Regions from separate parts of the Homo sapiens genome. Here regions 2 and 3 are each linked to region 1. The links come from fine-mapping of genetic effects on gene expression. A gene starts in region 1. Each other region holds a variant in brackets. All regions are shown on one strand. Distances are between the middles of the regions.

Region 1 (10,680 bases):
GGGTGCAGGAGGGCAGAGGGGAAAGGCGCAGGTCCGGTGGTGTCTTTCAACGGGATGTTACCCTGGGCGTAGGGTTGTCAGATACAGCACATGTATTCTTTTAGTATAAGTATGTCCCAAATATGGCGTGGGACATACTTACACTAAAAAAAGTTTCATTGTCCTTTTGCAATTCAATTTTAACCCGGCATCTTGATCTATATTTGCTAAATTTGGCAGGCCTGTTAGGGCTGCAACAAAAGGAGAGAGTGTGAGCAGAGAAATGACTTGATCTGACTGTTTTAAACCCATGTGACTCTTACCTATTGCTATGCCAGAGAGTGTGCTAGGTTCTGGGCATTCATTCAGCTGTAAGCAAAATGGACAGGATGCCTGCACCCCCACCAGTGCTCTGTGAGAGGGCTTTACCCCTTTGGCCTGCTCATCTATCCTTGTCCTTTGGACACAGTAAAGTGCTCCAGACTTCAGGACGCTTGCCCAGCCTCCCAGCACACCACCTAATCTTCTCCGTTCCCTATAATATCCGCCTTCCTTGTTATGCGGAGAGCTCCATCAGGATGGGGATTAGGTTTCTTTGACTCACAGCTGATTGGGGGCCAGGGCACTGCCGGGCTGAATGAGTATGTCTTCACTGAGTGTCCGTTTTTCTAAACCTGGTCCTCTAGCCTTACTCGTGGAGGGTGACCTACCTAACATCCTTTACATAAAATCTTTTCGAATCAGCTAGACTCGGTTTCTGCTGCTTGTGACATAGAACCCTGACGATACCTCAGTCCAAGCAGTTTAGTGGAGTAATCAGAGCAGAATGTATAATGTTAAAAAGCTGGCCCGATGCGGTGGCTCACGCCTGTAATCCTAGCACTCTGGGAGGCCGAGGCAGGCGGATCACTTGAGGTCAGGAGCTCGAGACCAGCCTGGCCAACATGGTGAAACCCCATCTCTACTAAAAATACACACACACACACACACACACACACACACACACACACACACACACAAAGTAACCGGACAAGGCGCGTGCCTGTAGTCCCAGCTACTTGGGAGGCTGAGGCAGGAGAATCGCTTGAACCCAGGAAGCAGAGGTTGCAGTGAGCTGAGATTGCACCACTGGACTCCAGCCTGGGTGACAGAGCGAGACTCTGTCTCAAAAAAAAAAAAGCTGGTGCTCCTGGAGTGGGAGGGCCACGCAGCACACCATAGTCAGGCCCTGTAGGAGAACAGTAGGCCTCTGGGACATGCAGGCTGGGTGGTGGACACGGTGGTGGTTTGTCTTCCCAGCCTTTTCTTTCTCTCTCTCTTTTTTTGCATACAGATCCTACGCTTTTAGGGGTGGGTACCATCGTTGCCTACTCAGTGGCTGTTTCAACCCTTCTGCCTGTACCATGTGATTTATTTATGTGCTCAGTTAACAAGAGAGAGAGCAAAATGAAAACATTTTTACAGACACTAAAAAAAAAAAAAAAAAAAAAAGGAGAAAGCCATGGTGGTTTGTCCACTCAATGAAACACTGAGAAATCATTTAAAGTGACATTTGCAATTGTTTAGGGATATGCTTATTCTAGAATATTAAATGCAAAAAGAAAGATAAAAAATAGACTGCTTCATTGAGCCGAAATCTCGCCACTGCACTCCAGCCTGGGCGACAGAGGGAGATTCCGTCTCAAAAAAAAGACTGCTTCATACAAGGCTTTGGATTCCGTGTGTGTGTGTGTGTGTGTGTGTGTGTATAAATACACGTGTACTGTAGGAAAAAAAACCAGCAGGAAGGAAGCCAAGACCCCAGCGGCCCTTGTTTATTGGGCGATAGGGAATTCGGTGGTTCTTTTGTCCGGTTTTCTGTATTTTCCAAGCTTGATTTAACCATGCTAAAGGCCTCTGTTACACGAAGTTTCCACGCTGCAGGATTCTCGGAGATAAAAACAACACTGAGTTGGCATGTTTGAAAACCTTCTCACTGCGGAGCTAAGCCTCCCATGTGCAATTTGCATTTTTCCTGTGAAAAAAAGCCGCCTTCGCTGTAGGGAGTCGCCTCCCTTCTCCTTGAAGTCCCCTAAGTCTTAGTTTCTGCATCGGGCCAATGGGGATGACTGTGAAGAGGTCGGAAGTCGCGGCTGTGGCGAAGCGGAATGCAGCCAGCGGCGCCGGCCCGGCAGGGAGTCGCTAGGGGGCGGGCGCGGGCTTGGAGCCCTCTTAGGCGCTCCCGTGGGGGCCCAACGTCAGGCGGCCGGTTAGCTCAGTTGGTTAGAGCGTGGTGCTAATAACGCCAAGGTCGCGGGTTCGATCCCCGTACGGGCCAGGCTAACTTTTTTTTTTTTTTTTTGGTCCCCGCAATGTTCCTTTCTGATACTGTAACCGGCGTGCAGGCAGGAGAGAACTGCGGAATCTTTTGGACTGGCCCAGAGGTTATCCAAGGCTACCTGCTGGGGAGAGCGGGAGGAACTCAGAGCGCGCTGGGGCGGTGGCTCCTCACCCCGAGTCCCCGCGCCGCCACCTGAAGGGTCTGTTTTAGAATGCCATTGGTTAGGCCTTTTACTTTTGTCGTTTTAAAGGACACTCTGGACATCCAACCGATGCACATCCCACGCCCCCACCCCCCACGTTTCCTGAGGCTGCGTCTGGCCTGGAGGAACCGCCCAGTGAAGACAGGTGCTCGCAGATATCACCGCCTAGTGTTCCCTGGGCCCACTTGCGGGGAAGTCTTGGAGGTGAAAATCCAGGTCTGGAATGAATGCATTCCACAGATGCATATGGAGAGCTACTGCATGCCCAGCACCATTCCTAGGCTGGGAGCAAAACGGTGAGACACAAACCCCAACCCGCTGGAGACAGTGACCAGCCACTAGATGACTGCCATGTTTTTAGTGAGGCATTCAGGTTGTGGAAGCCTCTGGAAACCTTCTCTTGCTTTTTGTCCCCCCTCTTTTCTTTTCGGAGACATCTTAGGCTTCACATTTCTTCCTCTTGGTTCTACATTTTGAAGCCAGAGCAAGTGGATGAATTTCTCACTCGGTTCGTTTCTAGGGTGGTCAGGTGTGCTCAGCTGAACAAAAGCCGGTTGTATAAGGTTGATGCCATTTTATGTCAGGATCCGGCAAGGGCTCCACCTGTTTTTGAAAATTCTACAGTGGAAACAGCTACTAGTTCTGACCTAAATAAGAAGCAGCTCAACATCTACAGACCTTGGTATGTGCCCAGGGTGTAGTAAAAGTTCTCAATAAATGCCAGCCGATGGCGCTGCTGCTATTATAAGCAAAGTTAGGAGAGCCTGGGGCAGCTGACACTTAAAATAGACATCTGTACACAGGATGGATGTCACATCTTTTAATAGTCGTGCCAGGCACGTTGTTAGATGCAGGGACACAGCATGGAGGAATCGGTGGAGGTTGCTGCCCTCAAGTTTCCTGAGCTTGAAGGGGTTTAGAATATGCCACGGTGGCATGAAAATTATTTTGAGCAGAAGGCATGTGAATTCCTGAAATCTGGTCGGGTGTGGTGGCTCACACCTGTAATCTCAGCACTTGGGAAGGCCGAGGCGGGCGGATCACCTAAGGTCAGGGTTTCAAGACCAGCCTTACCAACATGATGAAACCCCGTCTCTACTAAAAATACAAAAATTAGCCAGGCATGGTGGCGGACGCCTGTAATCCCAGCTACTCAAGAGGCTGAGGCAGGAGAACCGCATGAACCCAGGCGATGGAGGTTGCGGTGAGCTGAGATTGTGCCACTGCACTCCAGCCTGGGTGACAGAGTGAGATCTTGTCTCAAAAAAAAAAAAAAATTGTGGTAAGATACCCATAATATAAAATTCACCATTAAAAAATAACACGGAAGGGATCATCGTGAATGCAATGTGAGTATTGATGAGGATGGTGGTGATCTTCCAGAACCTTCTCTGACGCCACCCAGGCCGCCAGCCTTACTTTACCGGCTTCGGCGCTCATCATACTGTGCTGCAAATGCCAGTTTCCTCCTTCCCCCTTGGGAAGTTTCCTCCTTGGGGGTCGGCACCTAGACTGTATACCCCCCAGGGCGGAAACAGCGGTTCACCCACCAGGTGCTTAAGAAGGGTTTGTGGACCAGTGGACCTCCTGCTCTCCCTGGGGAAAGGAGCTGGGACATGTGTACACACCTGCAGCTACAAGATTCGGAGGGCGCACAGAGCCTCAACCGTAAGAAGGAGAGGCGATCAGGCTGAGGAAGATGGGGCAGTGGAGCTGGATGGATAGAGAGAGGGTGGGTTCATTCATTCGTTCACTCATTCGTTTATTCATATTCATCCATCCATCATTCATGCCCTGAGCGTGCGTTGTGTTCTGGGCAGGGCCTGTGCTGGGCACCGATTGTGTAATATATCATCTCTCCCTTCAAGGTGCACCCAATCTGGGTGGGTGGGTAGAGAGAAGCTACGGTGACAAGGCAAAAATTTGGGAAACACTCTCGTTAACAATTCAAACTGTGGTCCCCTCCCAGATGTATAAATCCAAATGTTTAGGGGTGGGCACAGTACTCTGCATCTCCAGACAGCATCCTCCGCTGATTCGGATGCATGATGACGTCAGAACACTTGGATATTGTGGTAACTTTTGGGCCAGGGGCTCTGAAACCCCGAAGACCTCCCCCTGGGAGATCCGGGACAGCTCCCAGAGAAGGTGAGTCTTAAACACATCCGTGACAGGCAATAAGGAAAATAAGGGGGGTCCGCTCTGCTGATCAGCCCTAAGAGCCGCGGCGGTTGTCGGCTGGGGCGGGGCACTCCACGACTTTCCCGGCCAGACACGGTCGCCTTCCTAGGTGTCTTGGCCTGCGAGGCACTCGTAGCCCGCCCCTCTCCTAGGTGACGTACATTGGAGACGCCGTCGCTCAGCGACCCGGGTTCGAGTCCCCGCCTCGGCCGCCATGGCGGATGCGGAGCCGGAGGCTGGGGGCGGCAGCGAGGATGGCGGCGGCGGCGGCGGCCCGGCTCCTCCGGGCCAGAGCGGCAGCGTCGCACGTGTGGCCCCGCTGGGCCCCGAGCAGCTGCGGCAGGTCCTGGAGCAGGTGACGAAGGCGCAGCCGCCGCCGCCGCCGCCCCCCTTCGTGCTGCGGGACGCGGCGCGGCGGCTGCGGGACGCGGCCCAACAGGCCGCCCTGCAGCGGGGCCGGGGCACCGAGCCCCCGCGCCTGCCGCGCCTGCTCCCGCCCCAGGTGAGGCGTCGGGAGGGACGTGGGGAAACTGAGGCCCGAAGGGGGCCGACGCCCCGCGGCGGGGTAGCTGCTTGTCCGGGGAGGCCAGTATCCGCCCGGGTTAAGACTCAGGGCGTCCCCAGGCTGAGCTTCTTAGGGACGGCGTTCGGCCCCCACCTGTCACCACCCTGGCATTTTCACCCCAGGAGCCTCACTCTAGGAGCGGTTGCTCACGCTGGGCCCTGTGCCTGGAACGCCCTCGTGCCTTCTCTGCCTTCACAGCCCTGCTGGGGGCTTTTGCGTGCTCCCTAGCTCTTCTTACAGGCCTTTCACCGCTGGTTCAGCCTTTGTGGAGCACTTAGAGACCGTGTTCCCAGCACTCCCCACTATGTGCAGGAGGTGAAGCCTTGAACACACTTGCTGAAGAACGAACATAAGGCAGGTTCTGGGATTGACGGGGGCTGCTTTAGAGTGGGTGGTCCCGTAGGCCAGACACTGGAGCTGAAACATAAATGAATTAAAAGGAACCAACTTAGCTTTTCAGTTGTAAGGTGCCAAGGCCCAGGCTTGGAACAAAGTCAAGCACAATACACTAGTTCGCTGCAGGACTTAACATCCTGGGTGATAGTGACTGATTTGTAACCGCAGTACCCAGCACAGTGCCTGATACACAATGTTTGGAATATGTGAAAGCACTCTGTATACTACAAAACATCCTTTCCCAGTGGGTTTATTTCCTGGGCCACACACCTTTTGGTTGCTAGGGGGGTGATAACTAGAAGACGGTCGCCCAACTCCGGAGGGTGAAGCATAGCGCCTGAAGCCAGAGGGCCTACACGGCATCTGTAAAATTCCACCCCATTTCAGCGCTGGGGTTGTAAACAAAATTAGTCTCACCCCAAAATTGCCAAAAGAAGACAGCTTTTTCCACTAGAAGAAACGGGTTAGGGAATAGAATCAGGAACCTTCACTCGTTGAGTTTTTTTGACTGATGTTAGCTGCTTAGGGTTGTATCCAGTTAATCATCAAGACTGGAGAGTTGTCTTGCTAAGGTTTAGGAAGACCAGTGTGATTCTGTCCAGATGCCACACTATCACTATCTAGAGGTGTGACCTTGGGTAAGTCAACCTTTTTGGACTTTGGTCTGGGTCAGAAGGCTGCAAGGTGCCATCTGGGGGCAGCTATCTGCAAAGCCTCTGCTCTGCGCCCGGCGCTGTGCGGGGCCGCTCAGTTTTCAGCAGTGTTTTTGTACCGGCATTTTGCAGGTGGGAAACAAGCTCAGGGAGGTTGCGTGGCTTTGCCCAAGGTCCCTCAGGTGTGGCTGCTCTCCCTAGCCCCTGTACTCCTCACCATACCCTGCTGAATATGGCCACAGCTTTTTGGGTTTGGAATCCAAAAATGACATATTTTTCGTAAAGCAAAAGCAAACTTATTCGAGCTTAGGCAGCATGATGGGATTGTATTTTGTAGCTAATCTAATGGAGACGATATAAATTCTACCTGCAATAATATACCTTTGCAGCACATTCTTTTAATACTCTTTCAGCCCCAGCTGTGTCATGGAGGCCACAAAGGCAAACCGGATGCGTACTTTGCCCCTCAGTAGTTTATGAACTAACAGGAGATGAAACAAGACCCAGATAACTTCTAGTCAAGGCCAGAAAGCTAAAGATAGTGAAAAAGAACTGAATGTATTTAGAGAAAGGGAGATTGTTCCTGGCTGAGGACATCAGAAGCAGCTTTGTTGAAGAAGTGGTATCTGAACTAGATTTGAAAGGGTGCGTCTGAGTTGAAAATGCAGAAGGGGAGAGGCAGGTTCTGGGGCGGTTGGGGGTGCATTTCAACAACCACAGCAGAAGGCCCAGTGTTCGCTGTGGGGGTGGTGTGGATCAGCAGCACAGACCAATGGACACACTTGGGTCAGATCGAGGCCCCTGTCTCTCCCCATCCTCCCTCTTCCCCACCCCACAGAAATTTCCAGTTCCATCCAACATGCTGTGCCCCTTTTCATGCATCCGTGCATTTACACATGGATGTGTGCCCTTTTTCACCTGGCAAAAATTCCCAGCCTTCAAAATGCCCCTCAGAGATCACAGCTTCTGGGCAGCCCACCACCTCTGGGCTGTTCCTGCCTCTTGATTGCACCTGTTGTACCATGATGACATTTTTCCTGTCTGCCTCACCTGTCTGCATTCCTTAGGGAAGCTTGTCTGCCTTCAGAATCATCAGTGGAGCTTTTGAAAGGGCAGATCTTGGGGCCTCACCCCAGGAGATCCGATTCAGCAGGTCTGCGGGGACTGAGGTATGGCAGGGGAAACCGCCCCCATCTCAAGGGTGAGGTTAGGACTTGGCTCCTGTGTATGTATTCCACCCAGAAATACTGAGTTAACATTAGCTGAATTAACTAAACAAAGTATCAAGCATAATACCCACAGGGTAAGCCAGTGAGGATAGAGGATAAATACATTATTAGTCTGGCTTTGCCGCTGTGGTTATCCTCAAACAGTAGGGTTTAGTGTATGTATGTATATGTATTATGTTTTTGTTTTGGGGTTTTGTTGAGACAGGGTCTTTCTTTCTCACCCAGGCTGGACTGATCTCGGCTCACTACAGCCTCGAACTCCCAGGCTCAAATGATCCTCACACCTCAGCCTCCCGAGTAGCTGGGGCTACATGTATGCACCATCATGCCTGGCTAATTTAAAAATGTTTTGTAGAGACAGGGTCCCGCTATGTTACCCAGGCTGGCCCTGAACTCCTGGCCTCAAGCAGTCCTCCCGCCTCAGCATCCCAAAGCACTGCGATTACAGGTGTGACTGGCAGTAAAATGAAAGAGATGGGGTTCTTGAAGGATATGCGCAGTCAATCTCGTTGTCATTTGTTTCACAAGTAGCCCAGGAGTCGGGGACTCCCAGGGCTATGGTGCCACCTCTCTACAATTCTTCATACAAAGTGTTGGCTGACCTCTGCTATTTGTACTAGTATAACAGACAGACGAGAGACACACTCCAGCTTGATCTCAGTGAGGATCTTTATTCTGTCCTGTGTGACATTTTTGTTGATGCTCCACTGTTTGAGGGTCACACCAGAAGGTTGAGTCCAAAGAGGGCCAGTTGGTCGTCCCAAATAAGTGATTCTCAACCGAGGGCAGTTTTGCCCCACAGGGGGCACTTGGCAATGTCTTCATTGTCAGGACTCGGGATCACTACTGGCATCTAGTGGGTAGAGGCAGAGATGCTGCTGGCCATCCTCCAGCCACCCATGTCAAAGGATTATGTTCTGAAATGTTGGTTGGGAAATCGTGCTCTGGATGATGAGGTTTGCCTCTTTTTCTCCCTGGAGGAAAGTGCTCATTATTTCTGCTCTGTGAGGGCGGGAGCCTTGTTTCTTTTGCTTCCCCGTCCTTCTCCCCTAAGCTGTAAGACAGCTGTTTCCCTGACACCTGTAACAGTGTTTCTGGCACGCGGTCAGTGCTCAATAAATATTTGTGGGGTGTTATTGAAGGTAGTTCTCCCCTTTGGTAGGTGTTTTGCTATTATAGACAGTGCTGCCCTGAACTTCGTAGAACAGAACATCTTTGTGGCCACCTGCGTGTTTTTTTTATAGAATCCAGGAAATGGAATTACTGGGTCAAAAAGCACATGTATTTGAAATTTTGTTAGATATATTTGTAAAAAGTTATTGAAGATACTCAGCCCTACGCCTAGGTACATGCCCCTGGAGAAAGTCACACATGTATACACATACATCGTGAAGATTCAGAGCAGAACTTAGGAACAGAAGGTTGGAAACCACCTGTCCATCAATAGGAGACTGGTGTACTCATACTGCAGAGAAAATGAACCCGTGACACCTACCCATGTTAATGTGGATAAAATTCACGAAGCAAAATGAAGTAAAGAAACCCAGAAAAGCCCTTTCAAGTTGCAGGAGATGATATCATTTATATAAAGTTTAAAAACATTTCAGAACTGAACTATATATTTTTAGAAATATCTGCATATGCCACATAAATTTTTAAAATCATAAGAATGCTAAACAGCACATTCAGGACAGGGTGAAGAAACAGGCATGCAGGTTGTGCAGTAGGAAGCTGGGTAACATTGTTCCTTATGGCTTTGTTGTCGCTTCCAGAATTTCATTAAAAACTTTTTAAAAAACATGGGCCCACATTATGAATTACGTCTGCTTTTAGAGTACTAAAAACTCCAAGCAAAAACACATGGGTAACGCCGGGCACGGTGGTTCATGCCTGTAATCTCAGCACTTTGGGAGGCTGAGGCGGACAGATCATGAGGTCAGGAGTTTGAGACCACCCTGACCAACATGGTGAAACCCCGTCTCTACTAAAAATACAAAAATTAGCCAGGTGTGGTGGCAAGCGCCTGTAATCAGGGCTACTCAGGAGGCTGAGGCAGGAGAATTGCTTGAACCTGAGAGGCAGAGGTTGCACTGAGCTGAGATAGCGCCACTGCATTCCAGCCTGGACCACAGAGCGAGACTTCATCTTAAAAAAAAATTAGCTGGTCATGGTGGCACACACCTGTGATCCCAGCTATTCAGTAGGCTGAGGCAGGAGAATCATTTGAACCTGGGAAGTGGAGGTTGTGGTGGCACTCCAGCCTGGGCGACAGAACGAGACTCCATCTCAAAAAAACAAACAAACAAAAAGCCAGCCGGGTGTGGTGAGGCAGGTGGATCGCCAGAGGTCAGGATTTCGAGACCAGCCTGAATGGTGAAACCCTGTCTCTACTAAAAATACAAAAATTAGCCGGGGCGTGGTGGTACGTGCCTGTAATCCCAGATACTTGGGAGACTGAGGCAGGAAAATTGCTTGAACTCGGGAGGCGGAGGTCGCAGTGAGCCAAGATAGTGTCGCTCCACTCCAGCCTGGGCGACAGAGCAAGGGTCCGTCTCAAAAGAAAAAGAAAAACCTCACATGGGTAAAACTGTTAGGAAGGCTCTTATCTCTTCACTGGTCATGAAATCAACTTAGTGGATTATGACTAGTATTTTTTAAAAAGTGATGTAGAATAGGGCTGGGCGTGGTGTCTCACGCTGGAAATCCCAGCACTTCGGGAGGCCAAGGCAGGTGGATCAATCACTTGACGTCAGGAATTTGAGACCAGCCTGGCCAACATGGTGAAACCCGTCTCTACCAAAAAATACAAAAATTAGCTGGGTGTGGTGGCAGCTACTCCGGAGGCTGAGATGAGAGAATCGCTGAAACTGGGAGGCAGAGGTTACAGTGAACTGAGATCGCACCACTGCACTCTAGCCTGGGTGACAGAGTGAGACCCTAATCTCAGAAAAAAAAAAAAAAAATGATGTAGAATAGATACAATCAGCGGGCATTTATATAGGGATGGTAAGTAGTTCCATCAACTTTATTTTATTTATGTATGCAGATATTTATATACACGTGTACTAGGTCATAATGTAAAATGTATCATTGTGGTCTCTGTTTTTGTTTTTGTTTTTTTCAGATGGAGTCTCACTCTGTTGCCCAGGCTGGAG
Region 2 (10,680 bases), 190 kb before region 1:
TGAAATTAAAAGCTTTCCTGAAGTTTCCTAAGGGGTATGTTATGCTATAAAAACTTAAGAATCACTTATCACACCAAAAAGATATTAAGCTTTATGTTATTAAATCAAGTTAAAAAGTAATAATTATAGGGCTACTTAGTTTTATTAGAATACAGACTGGGTGTGGTGGCTCATGCCTGTAATCCTAGCACTTTGGGAGGCTGAAGCAGGAGGGTTGCTTGAACCCAGGAGTTCGAGACCAGCCTGGGAAACACAGTGGGACCCCATCTCTGCAAAAGATAATTCGCTAGGCATGGTGGCATGTGCCTGTAATTCCACCTACTCAGGAGGCTGAGGTGGGAGGATCACTTGAGCTTGGGAGGATGAGGGTACAGTGAGCTGTGATCATGCCACTGCACTCTATCCTGGGTGATGAAGCGAGACCCTGTCCCACCCTCCCCCACGAAAAGAATACAGATGATTATGGGAGTCATTTACATTTAAAGACTTTTGTTTGATTACCATATATTTATATAGTACATTACCATTTACAAAGAGATTTTATATATTTTGTCTTTTGAACTTTTGACACACATAAGAAATACGTATTACTCTAACTTTAACACAAGAAAATAGATTTAGAGAGGTTACTCTCTAAAAAGTGAAAGTGTTAGTAAGTAATGAAGTCAGTTCTCAAACTCAGAGTTTAATAAAACCTATTTTGTTATAGGTATATACAAATTTTACCTTTTTAGGCCGGGTGCGATGGCTCACACCTGTAATCCCAGCACTTTGGGAGGCTGAGGCGGGCCGATTACCTCAGGTCAGGAGTTCAAGACCAGCCTGGCCAACATGGTGAAACCCTATCTCTACTAAAAATACAAAAATTAGCGTGGCGGTGGGCGCCTATAATCCCAGCTACTCAGGAGGCAGAGGCAGGAGGATCGCTTGAACTCAGGAGGTGGAAGTTGCAGTGAGCTGAGATTGCACCACTGCACTCCAGCCTGGGCAACAAGAGCTAGACTCAGTCTCAAAAAAAAAAAATTTCTGCTTTTCAGAAAATGAAATATTATACATACTAATCTGCAACATACACACACACACACACACACACATACACACACACACACACACACGTAAAGTTGAGACAGGGTCTTGCTCTGTGGCCCAGGCTGGAGTGCAATGGTGTGATCATGACTCACTGCAGCTTCAACCCCCTGGGCTTAAATGATTGATGCTCCTGCCTCAGCCTTCCAAAGTGCTAGGATACAGGTGTGAGCCACCACACCAGGCCTGTATTTTTCATTTAATATATTTTGGATATGTTTTCATGTCAGTATATGTAAGTTTATGAATTCATTGTTTAACAGCTGTAAAGTATGTCATTTCCATAATTTATTTATTGAATTCTCTATTGATGGGTACTTAGATTATTGCCAATTTTTCACTATTAAGAACAATGCTTTGGTGAAAATCCTTATACACATAATCTTTGTACATTTATGCGGGTAAATTCCTAGAACTTGAGTTGAGTCAAATCACATAACTACAATAAGTATTTTGACAGAAATGATCAAATTGCCCTCCAAATAAATAACAGCAACTTGCATTCTCACTAATGGAAAATCAAAATGCCTGTTTTTTTTCTCACCAAGTATGTGAACCCATCCTGTTTCTTAATACTTGTGCCAACATTAACATCTGTGCTAACACTATTATCAATTTTATATTGATAATTGATATTTTCCAATGTGATAGTAAAAAATAGTTTCAATTTGCATTTCTTTAGTTATTAGAAAACAATGAGCACCCTGGAGTGGGGAAATTCTTTCTAGGCATGACAGGAAACTCAGAAGTCATCAACAAAAATCCTAATGAATGCAACTTTTGTGAATTGCTTGCTTATGTCCTTTGCCTATTTTTTTCTACTGGGTTTTCTTTCTAATTGCTCGAAATAAGTTTTTATTATTAAGGATGTTAATCCCTTGCCATATGTGTTGTGAATATTTTTTCCAAGGTTGTTGTCTTTTCATATGGTGTCTTGTGCCATGCAAGACATAAAATAAAAATATCCTATGGCTTCTGAATTTTGGGCTATGTTTAGAAAAGCTTTCCTCACTTCAAGATTATAAATATATTTATTCAAGTCATTTCTTTCTCTTATGGTTATTTTTTATATTAAAATCTTTGCTCTATCTGGAGTTTATTTTGGAGTGAGGAGGGAAGTAGGAATCCAATTTTAAAATTATAAATGGTTAGTTGGTTGTTCCAATACCTCTTCTTAAATTAATCCTGCCATCTCTATCATATGTCCATTTTTATTGGGGTCTAATTCTGTACTTATTCCATTTTAGGAAAAGGATCTGTTTAAAGACTTTTTTTTTTTTTTTTTTTGACGGAGTCTCGCTCTGTCGCCCAGGCTGGAGTGCAGTGGTGTGATCTTGGCTCAGTGCAAGCTCCACCTCCCAGGTTCACAACATTCTCCTACCTCAGCCTCCCGAGTAGCTGGGACTACAGGTGCCCACAACCACACCCGGCTAATTTTGTTGTGTTTTTAGTAGAGACGGGGTTTCACTGTGTTAGCCAGGATGGTCTTGATCTCCTGATCTTGTGATCCACCTGCCTCGGCCTCCCAAAGTGTTGGGATTATAGGCGTGAGCCACTGTGCCCAGCTTAAGAGGTTTTATAATACATATTAATATTTGGGAGGCAAGTCCCCCCACTCCACTCCTGCCATTACTCTTCTTTTTCTTTTTTTTATTTTTTATATATATTTTTTGAGACAGAGTCTCACTCTGTTGCCCAGGCTGGAGCGCAAGGGTTCGATCTCAGCTCACTGCAACCTCTGCCTCCTGGGTTCGAGCGATTCTCCTGTTTCAGCCTCCCGAGTAGCTGGGATTACAGGTGCCTGCCACCATGCCC[A/G]GCTGATTTTTGTATTTTTAGTAGAGACGGGGTTTCACCACGTTGGCCAGGCTGGTCTCGAACTCCTGACCTCAGGTGATCCACCCGCCTCAGCCTCCCTAAGTGCTGGGATTATAGGCATGAGCCACTGCGCCCAGCCAATACTCTTCTTTTTCATAGTGATTCTTAAATGCTTATTCCAAATGAAACTTAGAATAATTCTGACAAACTGTAAATAAAATTCTGTTGATTTTGATTTGGCCTGAATTCAACTTACACACTGATCCAGACAGAACTGTCATTTTGGCCAGGCACAGTGGCTCATGCCTGTAATCCCAGTATTTTGGGAGGCCAAGGTGGGTGGATCACCTGAGGTCAGGAGTTCGAGACCAGCTTGACCAAGATGGTGAAACCCCATTTCTACTAAAAATACAAAAAATTAGCCGAGCGTGGTGGTAGGCCCCTGTAATCCCAGCTACTTGAGAGGGTTAGGCAGAATTGCTTTAACCTGGGAGGCAGTAGTGAGCCAAGATCACAACCACTGCACTCCAGTCTGGGCAACAGAGCGAGACTCGGTCTAAAAAAAGAAAGACAAAAAACAAAAACAAAAACAAAAAACCCTGTCATTTCTACAATGTTGAGTCTTGTTACCTAAGAATGAGGTGTTTTAATTATTTTGTTTCTTCAGAATTTAAGAGTGCTCTTCAAGTAGTTTCTAAAACCTTGTGGTTTTTTTTTTCTTTTTTTTTTAAGAGATTGCATCTCACTATGTTGTCCAGGCTGGTCTCAAACTCCTAGCCTCAAGGGATCCTCCCGCCTTGGTCTCCTACAGTACTAGGATTACAGGCATAAGCCACTATGTCCAGATAGTTTATGAACATGTTCTAAATATATTCAGAGAAACTGTGTGGTTCATCTCAGGGGGCACCATTCACACTGCAGTCAATGAAATTAAAGGCACCCCCCACTTCCCTGTGAGATGTATACTAGCAACCGTGTTTTTTTTAATTGAGACAGGGTCTCATTCTGCCAACCTAGGCTGGAGTGCAGGGGTGTAAACATGGCTTACTACAGCCTCAACCTCCTGGGCTCAGGCAATGATCCCACCTCAGCCTCCCCAGCAGCTGGGACTACAGGTGTGTGCCACCACACCTGGTTAATCTTTAAATTTTCTGAAGAGATGGCGCCTCCCTCTGTTGCCCAGGCTCCTCATGAACTCCTGGCCTCTGCCTCCCAAAATGCTGGGATTACAGGCGGAAACTACCACGTCCAGCCTATTTATCTTATTTTGTTATTGTGAATGTGACATTTTCTTCCATTATACTTAAATTAGTTACTATTTGACAGAGAAAGTAGAGACAGTTATTGATGTTTGAATGCTAATTTTTTTTTTTTTTTTTTTGAGATGGAGTTCCACTTTGTCTCCCAGGCTGGAGCACAATGGCACGATCTGGGCTCACTGCAACCTCTGCCTCCTGGGTTCAAGTGATTCTCCTGCCTCAGCCTCCCACATAGCTGGGATTACAGGTGCTCGCCACCATGCCCAGCTAATTTTTGTGTTTTTAGTAGAGGTGGGGGTTTCACCATGTTGGCCAGGTTGGTCTTGAACTCCTAACCTCAGGTGATCTGCCCACCCTGGCTTCCCAAAGTGCTGGGATTATAGGTGTGAGCCACTGTGCCTGGCCTGAATGCTACTTTTTAAATCTGCTATATTACATTGTCTATTGTTTCTTTTTTTCTTTTTTAGAGATGGGAGTCTAGCTATATCCCCCAGGCTGGAGTGCAGTGGCACTATCATGATTCACAATGTAAACTTGAACTCCTGGCCTCAAGCAATCCTCCTGCCTCAGCCTCCTGATTAGCTGGAATTACAGGTGTATACCACCATGCTTGGCTTCTTATTGTTTCTTACAGTTCTTCAGTTGATCCTCTTAGATTTCCAACATCTAATCATATATAAATAATAATTTCATTTAAAACTTTTATGTACTATACTGTCACAATATTAAATAATGTGATCATGAATAGAATTTATGTTATGTCTTTTGACCTTAAGTCCAGTGCTCTTTTTTGAGTATATATTCAATCCACTAAATAGTTATTGAGCACCAACAATCTATAAAGCATTGCTATAGATGAGAAAGACATGGTAAAAAGAAAAATCATTCAGTGCCCACATTCATAATCTTTATTTATTTTTTTGAGATGAAGTCTCACTCTGTTGCCTAGGCTGGAGTTCAGTGGTGTGATCACAGCTCACTGAAGCCTCAAACTCCTGGGTTCAAGCGATCCTCCCATCTCAGCCTCCCAAGTAGCTGGGACTATAGCCATGTATCACCATATCTAGTTAATTTTTATTTATTTTTTGTAGAGATGGGGGCTCCTTGTGTTGCCTAGGCTGGTCTCCAACTCCTGGGCTGAAGTGATCCGACTGCCTCAGCCTCCCAAAGTGCTGGGATTACAGGCATGAGCCACTGTGCCCAACCTCATAATCTTTTCTTATCCCAACAAACAGATCTAGAGCCACAATAAAAACCCAGTTGATAATTCTTGCAATGTTAAAACCTATCCAGCAAATTCAATATTCTATCCTACTAAACTGAAATGTGACCATATGCAAAAATTATTCTCCAAGGACAGGAGTGTTTCGTTTTTGTTATTTTTTAGGAAGAGGGAAGCAGAATGAGCTGGGACTAAGGAAGTGAGTGAACAATGGGCATGCTAAGTAGATATTTACCTGAAAGCCAAATACATAAAATAAACAAGGGGCTGAATCTCCCCCGCTCAGAAAGCTAGAAGCAGAGCTTTCTGAAAGCATGAGTAATGTGACCTAAGGCAGAGTTTAACCTCAGGGGGAAGGTATAAGAAAAGAAAGCATGCATGAGCATATTTTTAAGTCTGTGAACTGCAATCGTGTGTAGCGAACAACCTAGTGAGATGAGACAGCAATGTAATAAATGTCATAATAAAGTTAAGTATTAACATAAGGTGCTAAAAGAGAATCTTTCTCAAAGGTGAGTCACTCATTTGGCAAGTGTGTATTGAGTACCTATTGAATGTCAGGCCCCAATCTACACACGACATGCCAAACAAAAATAGGCAGGATCCCTATTATAAGCTTACGGTCTACTGAGGGAGGTGGCTTTTATTTAAGAAAACATATAAATATGTGTGTGTATGATGTATATATTATTAGAAATTGTGCTAAGTGCTATACGGGAAATAATTCCATGAGAAAATAAGGTGACATAACTTACATTTGGGGCCTCAGGGAAAGCCTCTCTGAGAAGGCAGCCTTTAAGTTGAAAAGTGAGGGATGAATAAGCAGAGAGCATACCAGGCAGGAGTGATTTTTGGAGTGAAGTCTTCTGGGATGAGCGGCCTTCTATTCCCTCTGATGAACAGAGAGGAAAGGGAATCTCACTTATGCAAAAGCATGAAAGCACAGGTGTGACAGGTATGAGGAACTACAAGTTACCATAGCTCAGTAAGGGGACACGTGGACATGGAAACACCAGGAAAAGAGAAAAACAAAACGCAAAAATATGAAGAAGATGGAAGAGGAACAAACTAGAAATCCAATTCAGTATGTGTTGATTATTTACTATGTGCTTAGCAATATCTTAGGGGATTCTTAAAGCGGAAAAAGAATGGCTCCTCCTCTCAAGAAACTCGGAGTCTAAATGGGTAGATACTGACTGCATCCTCGACTAGATTCTTTTTTTTTTTCTTTTTTGAGACGGAGTCTCGCTCTGTTCCCAGGCTGGAGTGCAGTGGCGCAACCACGACTCACTGCAAGCTCCGCCTCCCGGGTTCACGCCATTCTCTTGCCTCAGCCTCAAGAGTAGCTGAGACTACAGGCGCCCGCCACCACGCCCGGCTAACTTTGTTTTTGTACTTTTAGTAGAGATGGGGTTTCACGGTGTTAGCCAGAATGGTCTCGATCTCCTGACCTCGTGATCTGCCCGCCTAGGCCTCCCAAAGTCCTGGGACTACAGGCGTGAGCCACTGCGCCCGGCCGACTAGATTCTTTTAATATCATAAACTGTGTTTTTGTTTTCCCAATCAGTAACTCCTAAAATGAATTTTTAAATTAACAAATGAATCTTACTTCCTGCCACAGGCCCCAGCTACTACTTTACAGCAATCTATGGCTAAAAATCACTGTTTTACTGGCTGCTTCTCAAAAGGCCAATAATGCTGATGAGGCTCTTCAGAGAGTGAGAAGTACTTTTTTTTTTTTTTTAAATCACCTCTTCATAGCCTCCTCCCAATAAGTACTTATAATTATATATAAGTAACAAGTTAATTTTTTCTTTACATATAGCATACTAGCTCTTTAAAAAATCTCATCTTTCCTGTTTCAGGATCTCAGATAGAAAAAAGTTAGGAACTGTTATTGAGGCTATTAAGCTTGAACGTCCTTGCTCTAATCTTTGCAAAGATAAAACCCACAATGCTCATTAAGCTGCTTGGATAAGCTGTTGTTTTACTTCTTACTGGAGGAGCTTAACAATGAAAAACAAAGCTAGCATGAGTTCTATCTACAAAAAGTGATGTCCTAATTTGAATTCAGTTCTAACATACTGTAATAATTCAATTAGTTCTGTGACTGAGGCAGAATGTCCCAGCCTTATGACAGTTCTCTTATTTTCTTCCTGTATTTTCCCTTTATTACTATGGTTTGGAACCCACATTTCAGTCTTATCCCTAGAGTCTAAGATAATTAAAATAGCACACATGGAGTTATATTTATTTGAGGGGGTAGGAGACAGCTGTGACTCTTTCAAGGCTGGGACTGGAGACAGTAAGCAATAGGCAGAGGTGTTTTGTTTTATTATATATATACACATACATTTTTTGAGTCAAGGTCTTGTTCTGTGGCCCAGGCTGGAATGCAGTGTTATGAACACAGCTCACTGCAGCCTCAACTTTCTGGGCTCAAGCGATCCTCCCAACTCAGCCTCCCGAGTAGCTGGGACTACAAGTGTGTGTTGCCACGCCTGGCTAACCTTATTTTTATAGAGACAGGGCCTTGCTATGTTGCCAGGTTGGTTGTGACCTCTTGGGCTCTAGCTATCCTCTTGCCTCGGCCTCCCAAAGTGCTGGGATTATAGGTGTGAGCCACCACACCAGCCATGTTTTGTTTTTAATTGGAGAAAGAAGCAATTCTATTAACAATTACCAACACACTGCCAAACTCTCAAGCAGAAATGAACATTGGTTCTTCTGTGCTGCTCTCTTCTTTGCTCAGCAGGCTCATACTACATGGGAGGAGGCAGTGCAGTGTGGGAGTCTGCCCAGGAGAAACAGTAACTTGCTGCTGGAGCAGGGTGTCCTAGAGGAGACCAGGAATTTGTTACAAGAACATGGTGGAGAAATTGATCTTGAAAAGAAGAGGTGGCTGGGCACGGTGGCTCACACTTGTAATGCCAGCACTTTGGGAGGCCGAGGTGGGTGGATCACTTGAGGTCAGCAATTCAAGACCAGCCTGACCAACATGGTGAAACCCCGTCTCTACCCAAAATACAAAAATTAGGATGGGCGCAGTGGCTCACGCCTGTAATCCCAGAACTTTGGGAGGCCGAGGTGGGTGGATCACCTGAGGTCAGGGGTTCGAGACCAGCCTGGCCAACATGATGAAACCCCATCTCTACTGAAAACACAAAAAATTAGCTGGGCATGGTGGCGGGCGCCTGTAATCCCAGCTACTCGGGAGGCTGAGGCAGGAGATTGCTTGAACCCAGGAGGCAGAGGTTGCAGTAAGCCAAGATCGCACCATTGCACTCTAGCCTGGGCAGTAAGAGCAAAACTCCGTCTCGGAAAAAAAAAAAAAAAAAAAAAATTAGCCGGGTGTGATGGTGCATGCCTGTAGTACCAGCTACTCAGGAAGCTGAGACAGTGAATTGCTTGAACCCAGGAGGCGGAGGTTACAGGGAGCTGAGATCATGCCACTGCATTCCAGCGTGAGCCATATAGCGACACTCCATCTTAAGAAAAAAGAAAGAAAAGAAGAGAAGAGGTACTTCTTCTTTTAACCTAGAAGAATAAGAATGGGTTCAGATAGAGATAAGAAGGGAGGTATAAGTTGGAAGGTAAGAAATGAGAAAGGTTTATGCCTTACGGTGATTCCCAAGTTTTCTTGGTTCTCAGAGCCCTTAGTGTTTCAGAATTTCTTTATGGCGCTCCCTGGACCAATAGAAAAATCTAACAGTTCCATTTACCAGGTACAGTTCAAACAACCTAATAAGTAGTTATGCCTGGATAATTTAGCAGCTGTTTGAAAAATAAATTGAGCACTATAGATAGAGTGGCTCTAGTTTTGATTTTTTTTTTTTTTTTTTTTTGAGACGGAGTCTCACTCTGTCGCCCAGGCTGGAATGCAGTGGGGCAATCTCAGCTCACTGCAACCTCTGCCTCCAGGGTTCAAGCAATTCTCCTGTCAGCCTCCCGAGATTACTACAGGGGATTACTACAGGCATGTGCCACCACGCCCACCTGGCTAGGTTTGATTTTTTTTAACTGCACATATAATTCACCCAACGACTATTATTCAGTGGTTTCTGGTATATTCAGAACTGTGCAATTATCACCTCTAAAAGAAACCCTGGGCTCATTAGCAGTCACGACTCCTTCCCTGTCATTTCCCCATCCCTAGGCTACCACAAATCTACTTTCTGTCTCTATACTACATTCCTTTTTTTTTTTTTTTTGAGTTGGAGTCTTGCTGTGTCGCCCAGCCTAAAGTGCAGTGGCTTGATCTCAGCTCACTGCAGCCTCCGCCTCCCGGGTTCAAGCAATTCTCCTGCCTCAGCCTCTCGAGTAGCTAGAATTACAGGTGCACGCCACCATTCCCAGCTAATTTTTGTATTTTTTTAGTAGAGACGAGGTTTCACCGTGTTGGCTAGGCTGGTCTCGAACCCCTGACCATGTGATCTGCCTGCCTTGGCCTCCCAAAGTGCTGGGATTACAGGCGTGAGCCACCACGCCCGACAACTACATTCCTTTCTATCATAGCTGATTAATATTCCATTGTATGGATATACCACATTTTGTTTATCCATTCATTAGTTGATGGGCATTTGGTTTGTTTCCACTTTTTGGCTATTTTGAATAATGCCGCTGTGAACATTCACGTATAAGTTTTTGTGTGAAATTTTTTTTTTGTTTTGTTTTGTTTTGAGATGGAGTCTCGCTCTGTCGCCCAGGCTGAAGTGCAATGGTGTGATCTCGGCTCACTGCAACCTCCGCCTCCTGGGTTCAAGCGATTCTCCTGCCTCAGCCTCCTGAGTAGCTGGGATTACAGGCCCGCACCACCACACCTGGCTAATTTTTGTATTTTTAGTACAGACGCAATTTCACCACGTTGGTGAGGCTGGTCTCGAACTCCTGACCTCATGATCCACCTGCCTCGGCCTCCCAAAACGCTGGGATTACAGACATGAGCCACTGCGCCCGGCCGTGTGAATATGTTTTGATTTCTCTTGGGTATATACATACGATTGGAATTGCTGGGTCCTATGGTAACTGTTGAAACTTTTACGGAACTGCCAGACTATTTTCCATATTGGCTATATTACTTTTCCTTCCTATCTGCAGTACATGGGGGTTTAAATTTCTCCACATTCTCACCAACACTTGTTATTGTTTATCTTTTTGATTATAGCCATCCTAGTGTATATGAAGTGACATCTCCTTGTGGTTTTAATTTGCATTTCCCTGATGGCTAATAATGTTGTGAATCTTTTCACGTGCTCCCTGGCCATTTGTGTAACTTTGCAGAAATGTCTATTCAGATCC
Region 3 (10,680 bases), 210 kb before region 1:
TTTTTTTAGAATTGGGGCCTTGAAGCCCAGGTGCAATGGCTCACACCTGTAATACCAGCACTTTGGGACGCCAAAACACGAGCATTGCTTGAGACCATTTTGAGACCAACCTGGGCAACATGGCGAGGCCATGTCTCTACAAAAATTTTAGAAAATTAGCTAAGTGTGGTGGCATGTACCTGTGGACCCAGCTACTTGGGAGGCTGAGGTGGGAGGACTGCTTGAAACTGGGAGGTTGAGGCTGCAGTGAGCCATAATCATGACATTGCACTACAGCGTAAGCAACAGAGCGAGACCTTGTCTCCAAAAAAAAAAAAAAAAAAAAAAAATTGGGCCTCGTTCTGTTGCCCAGGCTGGACTTGGACTCCTGGACTCAAGCAATCCTCATACCTCAAGCTAGGACTACAGCCTTGTGCCATGGTGCCTAGCTTTGAATTCTTTTTTTAAAAATTGTTTTATTAATAGCAGTTTTTTAGTTGATTTTCTTGGGCCTTGTAAATATTGATCCTATCATTAACAAATAGTAAAACTTTTAACTTCTCTTTTCTAATTTTTACACATCTAACTTATAACTTTTTTTTTTTTTTTTTTTTTGAGATGGAGTCTTGCCCTTGTTGCCCATGCTGGAGTGCAATGGCGTGATCTTGGCTTACTGCAGCCTCAACCTCCTGGGTTTGAGCGATTCTCCTGCCTCAGCCTCTGGAGTTGCTGGGATTACAGGTGCCTGCCACCACACCCAGCTAATTTTTTGTATTTTTAGTAGAGACGGAGTTTCACCATGTTGGCCAGGTTGGTCTTGAACTCCTGACCTCATGATCCACCCACCTCGGCCTCCCAAAGTGCTGGGATTACAGGTGTGAGCCACTGAGCCCAGCCCCTCATTTGTAACTCTTATCTGATTGCTTTGGCTAATACTTTCAATACACTGTTGAACAGTAGTGGAGATAGTGGTCATTCTCTTCCTGACTTTAGCAGGGCTATGTGGATTGCATTTCATTTATTTTAATTTTTATTGGACAGCTGAATTTTTTAACTTTTTAAATTAAGGTATAATTTACATAAAGTGCTAAATCCTAAGTGTAATACTTGATACACTTTTACAGCCAACACCCAGCTCAAGATGCAGACTTTCCAGCACCCCAGAGGCTCCCTATGTTTCTTCCCTATCAATATCTCCCTCAAAGATAACCAACATTCTGACACCATTGATTAGTTTTGTCCATTTCTGAACTTCATACAGATGGAATTACACAATACGTACTCTCATGTCTGGCTATGTCCACTCAGCATTAGGTCTGTGGGATTCATCCATGTTGTATGTAACAGTAGTTCCAAGTTGAATATCCCTGATACGGTTTGGCTGTGTCCTCACCCAAATCTCATCTTGAATTGTAACTCCCACAATTCCTACATGTTGTGGGAGGGAGCTGGTGGGAGGTAACCGAATCATGGAGGTGGGTCTTTCCTGTGCTATTCTCATGATAGTGAATAAGGCTCACAAGATCTGATGGTTTTAAAAATGGGAGTTTCCCTGCACAAGCTCTCTCTTTGCCTGCTGCCATACATGTAAGACATGACTTGCTACTCCTTGCCTTCTGCCATGATTGTGAGGCTTCCCCAGCCATGTGGAACTGTAAGACCATTAAACCTATTTTTCTTCCCAGTCTTGGGTATGTCCTTACCAGCAGCATGAAAATGGACTAATACAGTAAATTGTTACCAGCAGAGTGGGGCACTGCTGAAAAGATAACCCAAAACTCTGGAAGCAACTTTGGAACTGGGTAATGATGAAAGGTTAGAACAGTTTGGAGGGCTCAGAAGAAGACAGGAAAATGTAGGAAAGTTTGGAACTTCCTAGAGACTTGTTGGATGGCTTTGACCAAAATGCCGATGATGATATGGACAATGAAATCCAGGCCGAAATGGTCTCAGATGGAGATGAGGAACTTGTTGGGAACTGGAGCAAAGGTGACTCGTTATTTTATTTTTTTTTGAGATGGAGTCCTGCTCTATCATTCAGGCTGGAGTGCAGTGGTGCAATATCAGTTCATTGCAAATTCCGCCTCCTGGGTTCAAGCGATTCTTCTGCCTCAGCCTCCTGAGTAGCTGGGACTACAGGTGCCTGCCACCACGCCTGGCTAATTTTTTGTATTTTTAGTAGAGACAGGGTTTCACCATATTGGCCAGGCTGGTCTCGAACTCCTGACCTTGTGATCCACCTGCCTTGGCCTCCCAAAGTGCTGGGATTACAGGTGTGAGCCACCGCACCCGGCTGACTCATGTTACGTTTTAGCAAAGAGACTGGTGGCATTCTGCTCCTGCCCTGCCCTAAAGATTTGTGGAAATTTGAACTTGAGAGAGATGATTTAGGGTACCTGGTGGAAGAAATTTCTAAGCCACAAAGCATTCAAGAGGTGGCTTGGGTGCTGTTAAAGGCATTCAGTTTTGTTTGTTTGTTTGTTTGTTTGTTTGTTTGTTTTTGAGAGAGTTTCACTCTGTTGCCCAGGCTGGAGTGCAATGGTGTAATCTCGACTCACTGCAACCTCTGCCTCCCGGGTTCAAGCAATTCTCCTGCCTCAGCCTCCCAAGCAGCTGGGATTACAGGCGCCCACCACCATGCCCGGATAATTTTTTTTTTTTTGAGACAGTCTTGCTCTGTGGCCCAGGCTGGGGTGCAGTGGCACGATCTTGGCTCACTGCAAGCTCCGCCTCCCGGGTTCACGCCATTCTCCTGCCTCAGCCTCCCGAGCAGCTCGGACTACAGGTGCCCCCCACCACGCCCGGCTAATTTTTTTCTATTTTTTAGTAGAGATGGGGTTTCACCGTGTTAGCCAGGATGGTCTCGATCTCCTGACCTCGTGATTCACCCGCTTCTGCCTCCCAAAGTGCTAGGATTACAGGCGTGAGCCACTGCGCCCAGCCCAATTTTTTGTATTTTCAGTAGAAATGGGGTTTTGCCACGTTGGCCAGGCTGGTCTCAAACTCCTTACCTCAGGTGATCCACCTGCCTCTGCCTCCCAAAGTGCTGGGATTACAGGCATGAGCCACTGCACCCAGCCAAAGTATTCTGTTTTATAAGGGAAGCAGAGCATAAAAGTTTGGAAAATTTGCAGCCTGGAAATGCACTAGAAAAGAAAATCCCATTTTCTGAGGAGAAATTCAAGCTGGCTGCAGAAATTTGCTTAAGTAACGAGGAGCTGAATGTTAATTTCCCAAGACAATGGGAAAAATGTCTCCTGGGCATATCAGAAGTCTTCACGGCAGCCCCTCCCATCACAGGCTTGGAGGCCTAGAAGGAAAAAATGGTTTTATGGGCCGGGCCCAGGGCCCCCTTGCTCTGTGCAGCCTAGAGACTTGGTGCCCTGAGTCCCAGCCACTCCAGCCATGGCTAAAAGGGGCCAAGGAACAGCTCATTGCTTCACAGGGTGCAAGCCCCAAGCCTTGGCAGTTTCCACATGGTACTGAGCCTGCAGGTGCATGGAAGTCAAGAATTGAGGTTTGGGAACCTCTGCCTAGATTTCCCTTTTCATGTTCCCTAGATACAATGGGGGTACAGGCATTGGGTAAATACACCCCTTCCAAATGGGAGAAACTGGCCCAAAACAAAGCATATCCTTTCACAGCTTCTTGAGAAGGGGCACAAAGAGGGTAAATTGAAACCCTGCATGTCCCACAATATCTTTATTCTAAACTCATACTTGAGTGATATATTGGTTTAGTTATAAGCTGGAATAAATACTTCCTCAGAATTTTGAAGCCATTTCTCAATTGTTCTCTTACATTCAATAAATTTTTACTGAGACTCTAGTACATGCCTGGCACTGCCTCTAGGCACTTGGGATCCATCAATGAACAACAGAGGCAAAGATACATCAAGATAGCATAAAAGAGCTTTTTTTCCTACTTGTGTTATGGTTTTCAGTGGTGGTGTTTACAAGTCAAGCTATTCTGATTACTGATCCCTTTTATATGACATTTCTTCTCTCTGGAAGCTTGTAGGATCTTTTCTATTCCAAGTGTTCTAAAATTTCAAAGTGATGTACCTTGGTATAGATCTATTTTTATCCATTCTGCTGGACACTTGGTGGGCTCATCCCCTCTGTAAACTCATGTTCTTCAGTTCTGGAAATTTTACTTGAAGATTTTGTGGATAATTTCCTCCTACAGTGTTTGGAGTTTGGACCTCTTAGATTCTCTAGGTGGTCTTCTATTATATGCTCTCTCTCTCTTTTTGAGACGGAGTCTCACTCTGTTCCCAGACTGGGGTGCACTGGCACGATCTTGGCTCACTGCAGCCTGTGCCTCCTGGGTTCAAGCAATTCTCCTGCCTCAGCCTCCTGAGCAGCTGGGATTACAGGTGCCCGCCACCACACCCAGCTAATTTTTGTTGTATTTTTAGTAGAGATGGGGTTTCACCATGTTGACCAGGATGGTCTTGATCTCTTGACCTTATGATCTGCCTGTCTCAGCCTCCCAAAGTGCTGGGGTTACGGGCGTGAGCCACCGTGCCTGGCTCTCCCTTTTTTTTTGTTTTAAAAGAGACAGGGTCTTGCTCTGTTGCCTAGCCTGGAGTGCAGTGGTGTGATCATAGTTCACTGTAATCTTGAACTCCTGGGCTCAAGAGATCCTCCCACCTCAGCTTCCTGAGTAGCTGGGACTGGAGGCACACACCACCATGTGCAGCTAAGTTTTAAATTTTTTTGTAGAGATGGAGGTCTCACTATGTTGCCCAAGCTGGTCTTGAGCTCTTGGCCTCAAGGCATCCTCCTGGCTTTACCTCTCAAAGTGCTGGGATTACAGGCGTGAGCCACTGTGCCCAGTTGATTTCAACTTTCTCTTCCAACCCTTCTAGCATTTTAATTTCTGCTGTTAAGTTTTTAATATTCAAGAGGTTTTTTATTTTCCTAAGTTTTTTACAAGAATGCAGACCGTTCTTATTTCATAGATGCAATATCTATTTAAACTACTAATATTAGCACTTGTTGTAAATTCGCATCTCCCTGTACAGCCTGTTTTCTTCAATATTATTTTTTCTGTTCATTTGTGTCATTTGTTTTGTTTGTATTTATTTATTTATTTTTTTGAGATGGAGTCTCACTCTGTTGCCCAGGCTGGAGTGCAGTAGTGCGATCTTGGTTCACTGCGACCTCTGCCTCCCGGGTTCAAGCGATTCTCCTGCCTCAATCTCCCAAGTAGCTGGGACTACAGGTGCCTGCCACCACACCTGGCTAATTCTTGTATTTTTAGTAGAGACACGGTTTCACCATGTTGGCCAGGCTGGTCTCGAACTCCTGACCTCAGGCAATCTGCCCGCCTTGGCCTCCCAAAGTACTGGGATTACAGGTGTGAGCCACCGCGCCCGGCTTGCTTGCTTGCTTGCTTTCTCTCTCTCTCTCTCTTTCTTTCTTTAATTAATTTATTTATTTTTGAGACAGAGTCTCACTACGTCACCCAGGCTGGAGTGAAGTATAGAGTGCAATGTTGTGATCTTGGCTTGCTGTAACCTCCGCCTCCCAGGTTCAAGCAATTCTCCTGCCTCAGCCTCCCGAGTAGCTGGGATTACAGGTGTGGTATGCCCCACCATGCCTGGCTAATTTTTGTATTTTTAGTGGAGACGGGATTTCACCATGTTGGCTAGGCTGGAACTCCTGACCTCAAGTGATCTGCCTGCTTTGGCCTCCCAGAGTGCTGGGATACAAGCGTGAGCCACCGCACCAGGCATACTCATTTATTTTATTTTTTTATTTTTATTTATTTATTTGTTTATTTTGAGACGGAGTCTCGCTCTGTCGCCCAGGCTGGAGTACAGTGGCATGATCTTGACTCACTGCAAGCTCTGGCTCCCAGGTTCACGCCATTCTCCTGCCTCAGCCTCTGGAATAGCTGGGACTACAAGCGCCTGCCACCATGCCCCGCTAATTTTTTCTATTTTTAGTTGAGACGAGGTTTCACCATGTTAGCCAGGATGGTCTCGATCTCCTGACCTCGTGATCTGCCCACCTTGGCCTCCCAAAGTGCAGGGATTACAGGCGTGAGCCACTGCACCCCGCCCCCATTTATTTTATTTATTTATTTTTTGTTACAGAGTCTCACTCTGTCATGCAGAGTCATGATCTCATGTCTCCCAGGCTCAAGAGTCTCATGCCTCAGTCATCCGAGTAGCTGGGACTACAGGCGTGCGCTAGCACACTGGGCTAATTTTTATATTTTTAGTAGAGATGGGGTTCACCATGTTGCATAGGCTGGTCTTGAACTCCTGACCTCAAGTGATCCGCCCACCTCGGCCTCCCAAAGTGCTGAGATTGCTGGGATTACAGGTGTGAGCCACTGCACCTGGCCATGTCATTTATTTTGATCTCTAAGTCACGTTTAGAGGCTTTTCTCAGATGTATGATAATCCTTGGATGTCTGCTTATGACTAAGAGTAGAGGACTAAAAAGCCATTTGGAAGATCTGAGCACATGGTTTACAGGATTTTTAGACTTTGAGATTCACTGCAGGGTATTCTACATGGGCAATTTGTTGGGAAACCTCTTAAACCTATATCCTGGGGATTGTCAGATTCTCCAGAAAAGAGTCTTCTAAAATTTCTGCATGGAGAGTAAAGATTTGGGTGCCAGTGTTTTGAAAGCCCAGTGGAGAGAAAAGGCAGGGGATTATTCCAGCATTCAGTAATCACACACTCACGTAATCCCCATTTTCAAGAGACTACTCTTGCCTTAATTTGGCCTAGTATTCCCTGTATAGAAATTCTTTGTTTTAGGCCGGACCCGGTTGCTGACTGTAATCCCGGCACTTTGGGAGGCTGAGGCGGGCAGATCGCCTGAGGTCAGGAGTTTGGGACCAGCCTGGCCAACATGTTGGAACCTCATCTCTACTAGAACTAAAAAAATTGGCCAGGCATGGTGGCTCACGCCTGTAATCCCAGCACTTTGGGAGGCTGAAGTGGGTGGATCATGAGGTCAGGGGATTTAGACCATCCTGGCTAACACGGTGAAACCCCGTCTCTACTAAAAATACAACAACAACAACAAAATTAGCTGGGTGTAGTGGCGGGCGCCTGTAGTCCCACCTGCTACTCGGGAAGCTGAGGCAGGAGAATGGCGTGAACCCAGAGGGCAGAGCTTGCAGTGAGCCGAGATGGCGCCACTGCACTCCAGCCTGGGCCACAGAGCAAGAAAAAAAAAAAAATTAGCTGGGTGTGGTGGTGCATGCCTGTAGCCCCAGCTACTAGGGAGGCTGAGACAAGAGGATCCCTTGAACCCGGGAGGTAGAGTGAGCCAAAATCATACCACTGTATTCCAGTCTGGGTGACAGAGCAAGATTCCATCTCATAAAACAAACAAACAAACAAACAAACAAAACAACTCTGTGTTTTACTTTTACAAAAAATAAACCTTAGACTTCTGCTAGGATGGGAGAAGGAATCTAGGAATCTAGATTTGCAAGGATTTATGTAAGATAAACTCCAAGAAGTGAGATTGCTGGATTGAAGAGTACGTACATTTTAGATTTTGATTAGTTATTGCCAAATTGTTCTCTGTTGCGCTTGTAACAGTTTTACACCAACAGCAATAATATGCATATTTGTTTCCTAATACCTTGTAAACAGTTATCAAACTTTTTGACTGTGAAAATATTTAGCCAGGTACAGTGGTTCACGCCTGTAATCCCAGTACTGTGGCAGGCTGAGGTGGGATCAGTTGAGCCCAGGAGGTCAAGGCTGCAGTGAGCCATGATTGTGACCCTCCACTCCAGCCTGGGTGACAGAGCAAGACCCTGTCTTAAAAAGAAAAAAAAGAAAAATTTATCTGATTCTAAAAAAAATTTTTTAGAGATGGGGTCTCCCTATGTTGTCTAGGCTAGCCTAGAACTTCTGGGCTCAACTGAAGCTCCTGCCTCAGCCTCCTGAGTGGGTGGGATATAGGCACCTGCCACTGAGCCCAGCTTAACTGTTATTTTAATTTGTATTTTTCTTAAGTTTAAGACC[G/A]AGCATCTTTTTTTTTTTTTTGAGATGGAGTCTTGCTCTGTCGCCCAGGCTAGAGTGCAGTGGTGCCATCTCGTCTCACTGCAAGCTCTGCCTCCCGGGTTCACACCATTCTCCTGCCTCAGCCTCCTAAGTAGTTGAGACTACAGGTGCCCGCCACCACGCCCAACTAATTTTTTTTGTATTTTTAGTAGAGACAGGGTTTCAACGTGTTAGCCAGGATGGTCTCGATCTCCTGACCTCGTGATCCACCAACCTTGGCCTCCCAAAGTGCTGGGATTAGAGGCATGAGCCACTGTGCCCGGCCAAGACCGAGCATCTTTTAATGGTGGAGAGAGTTGTGTTTCTGTTTTGTTCCTGTTTGCTCAGATCCTTTGTCCATTAGATTTTTAGCCTTTCTTTTATTGATTTCTAGGAGTCCTTTATTCTTTTTCCAGTTTGTTGTTTGTTGATCTTGCTTATCATGGCAGTGGCCACTGCACCAGCCACAGCGGGGAGGTGCAAGCAGTGGCGGCAGGGGCAGCTGCGGGAGCAGGAATGGTGGCAGTGGGTCCCCTGTGCTCCACGTTCCCGAGGCAGGTGACTGTGCTGCCCCCACCCTTGCATGGTCAGGTGAGACCTGTTCCCAGGCCTGGAGCCTCTGCTGCTCTGGACCCTGGCCCCGTGTCACCACTCTAGCCTACTGCCACTGCGGAGAGGGCATGGGGAGGAGGTAGAGCTGTGCCTGGGGCAGTTCCATGAACCACAGAGCCAGCAGGAGCCAGGGACAAGCTGGACCCTCCCCAACACTCCCTGCCCTCCACAGAACCCACCACCCTGGGCGCTGCCACAATGGGGCTGGGCACAGAGAAGCAGTTGGGCATGGGGTGGGCAGGCAGAAAGGGGCCCATTGAGGACCTGGAGCCCCTGCCCCAGGCTGCCTGCAAGCTCCATGCAGTGGTGGGAGCCCCACCCTCCCAGGTGTAGGATCTGGGCATCTCTGCACTCTGTGCCCTCAGGGCACAGGCTTGGGGGTGTCTGCTTCTGCTGCCTGGCCTCTCCCCACTCCTGGCACCCACTCCGATCTCAGAGTGGCATGGGGGTTGAGCCTGGGCGCTGTCCCAGCCTGGCTGGGTGTGCACCCGCTCAGTGCAGCACTAACATGTCAACCTCCCTCTTTGGACTTTTGGTAATGAGGAGCATGGGAGAGACGCCAAGGGGGGTGCTAAGGGCAGCTCGGCACTGGCCTGCAGGCACCCCTCAGCAGGAACAGCCTGGGTGCCGTGAAAAGTTGTAGGAAGTAGACCGGCTCCAGGGTGGAAAGGGGTGGGTCCCCAGTGAAGCACCACCTTCAGGCCAGGGAGGGCCTGAAGGCTGGGGGCCAGGTTGCCAGTCCCATGGACTGGAGTGGGAATTTGTGGTGCCTTTTCCAGGCCCACTTATGGCCACCCATGGACCAATCAGTGTGCACTTCCTCCCCTCTGAGGCCCATAAAAGCCCAGGACTCAGCCAGAGCAGAGCTGAAGACAGGATGACCAGCTGCAGAGATGAGCTACCCTCCACGCTAGGAGCTAAACACTCCTCGGGATGACCTGCTTAGCAGAGAGGAGCTACCCTCTTTGCTAGGAGCTGAACACCCCCCAGCTGCAGAAAGGAGCTACCTCCTCCAGGTCTCCTCGGGGCGGTTCTACCACTCAATAAAGCTCCTCTTCATCTTGCTCACCCTTCACTTGTCTGCATACCTCATTCTTCTTGTTCACAGGACAAAAACTCAGGACCCACCGAATGGCGAAACTAAAAGAACTGTAACACAAACAGGGTTAAAACATGCCCACTGCTCACCACGTTGCGGGCGAAGAGAAGGAGAGAAGAGCTGTGGCCCTTTGGGAAGCCCAGACCTGGGAGACCTGGGAGCTCCCTGAGCCAGGGTTTTGAGTCTCTCTTTGGGGCCCTGCAGTTCCTGGTGTCTCCAAGCTTCTAGGCACCACTGCATTCCCCAGTGCCAGCTGGGGAAGCTGCTTGCGATGTCCCTGGTCCAGCTGCAGCCTTGTAGAGAGCCATTGCCTGTGCTGGCACCTGGAGCTGCCTGCTCCATGGCAGCAGCTGGCATGTCTGACTGCACAGTGGCTGGACTCCACGCTCGTTCATACACCCCTCACTGCTCCATGCCTGACTTACAGACTCCCCTGGAGGCATAGGATCCAGGCTGGTAGCATGAGCCAAGCACAGCCTGCCAGGCTGAATGGGCAGAATGAGCCCAGTGAGCCCAAGCAAAATTCAGACAAGGGTGCCACCAGCCACAGAGGTTTCTAGCCAGAAAAATGATAACCCCTAAGGTCCTGCAACACTTATAGTGGTTTATCAGATAAAAAACCACTTTTTAATGTGATCACGATTTATTTTATGGCTTTCAAATTTTGTGTCATATTAGAAAGAATGTCCATACTCTGAGATTAAAAATGTCTCCCCTTCATTACTTCTATTACTTATTTTTTTTTTTAATTGAGATGGGGTCTATGTTGCCCAGTCTGGTCTTGGACTCCTGGATTCAAGCGATCTGCCCACCTCAGCCTCCCAAAGTGCAGGGATTATAGGTGTGAGCCACCATGCCCGGTCACTTTTTGTTTTTTATATTTTAATCTTTCATCCACTTTCCTAGATGATTACCCAGCAATCCTAATCCTATTTATTGAACATTCATCTTTTACCTACAG

The links. PIP is the estimated chance that this variant, and not a neighbour inherited with it, causes the effect. A credible set is the group of variants that fine-mapping cannot tell apart.
Region 2: its variant is the best candidate, but not a certain one, in a credible set for the expression of ZNF839 in whole blood (TOPMed, PIP 0.62).
Region 3: its variant is the best candidate, but not a certain one, in a credible set for the expression of ZNF839 in whole blood (INTERVAL, PIP 0.81).

The regions. Positions count from the first base shown.
Region 1 is chr14:102,314,870-102,325,549 of GRCh38, forward strand. ZNF839 (zinc finger protein 839) reads left to right here and starts at 4,877. Exons shown (of 8, transcript NM_018335.6): 1 at 4,877-5,184. The coding sequence starts at 4,897. It overlaps TRI-AAT5-4 (tRNA-Ile (anticodon AAT) 5-4), which reads left to right and starts at 2,223; the gene lies at 2,223-2,296. RefSeq lists enhancers at 1,913-2,012, 5,387-5,496 and silencers at 4,937-5,036, 5,097-5,286.
Region 2 is chr14:102,119,928-102,130,607 of GRCh38, forward strand. It overlaps a transcript of HSP90AA1 not described here. Among named protein-coding and RNA genes, the nearest start is that of WDR20, 15 kb to the right of the region's middle. The variant A/G (reference allele first, on the strand shown) is at 2,902.
Region 3 is chr14:102,107,959-102,118,638 of GRCh38, forward strand. It overlaps a transcript of HSP90AA1 not described here. Among named protein-coding and RNA genes, the nearest start is that of HSP90AA1, 26 kb to the left of the region's middle. The variant G/A (reference allele first, on the strand shown) is at 7,991.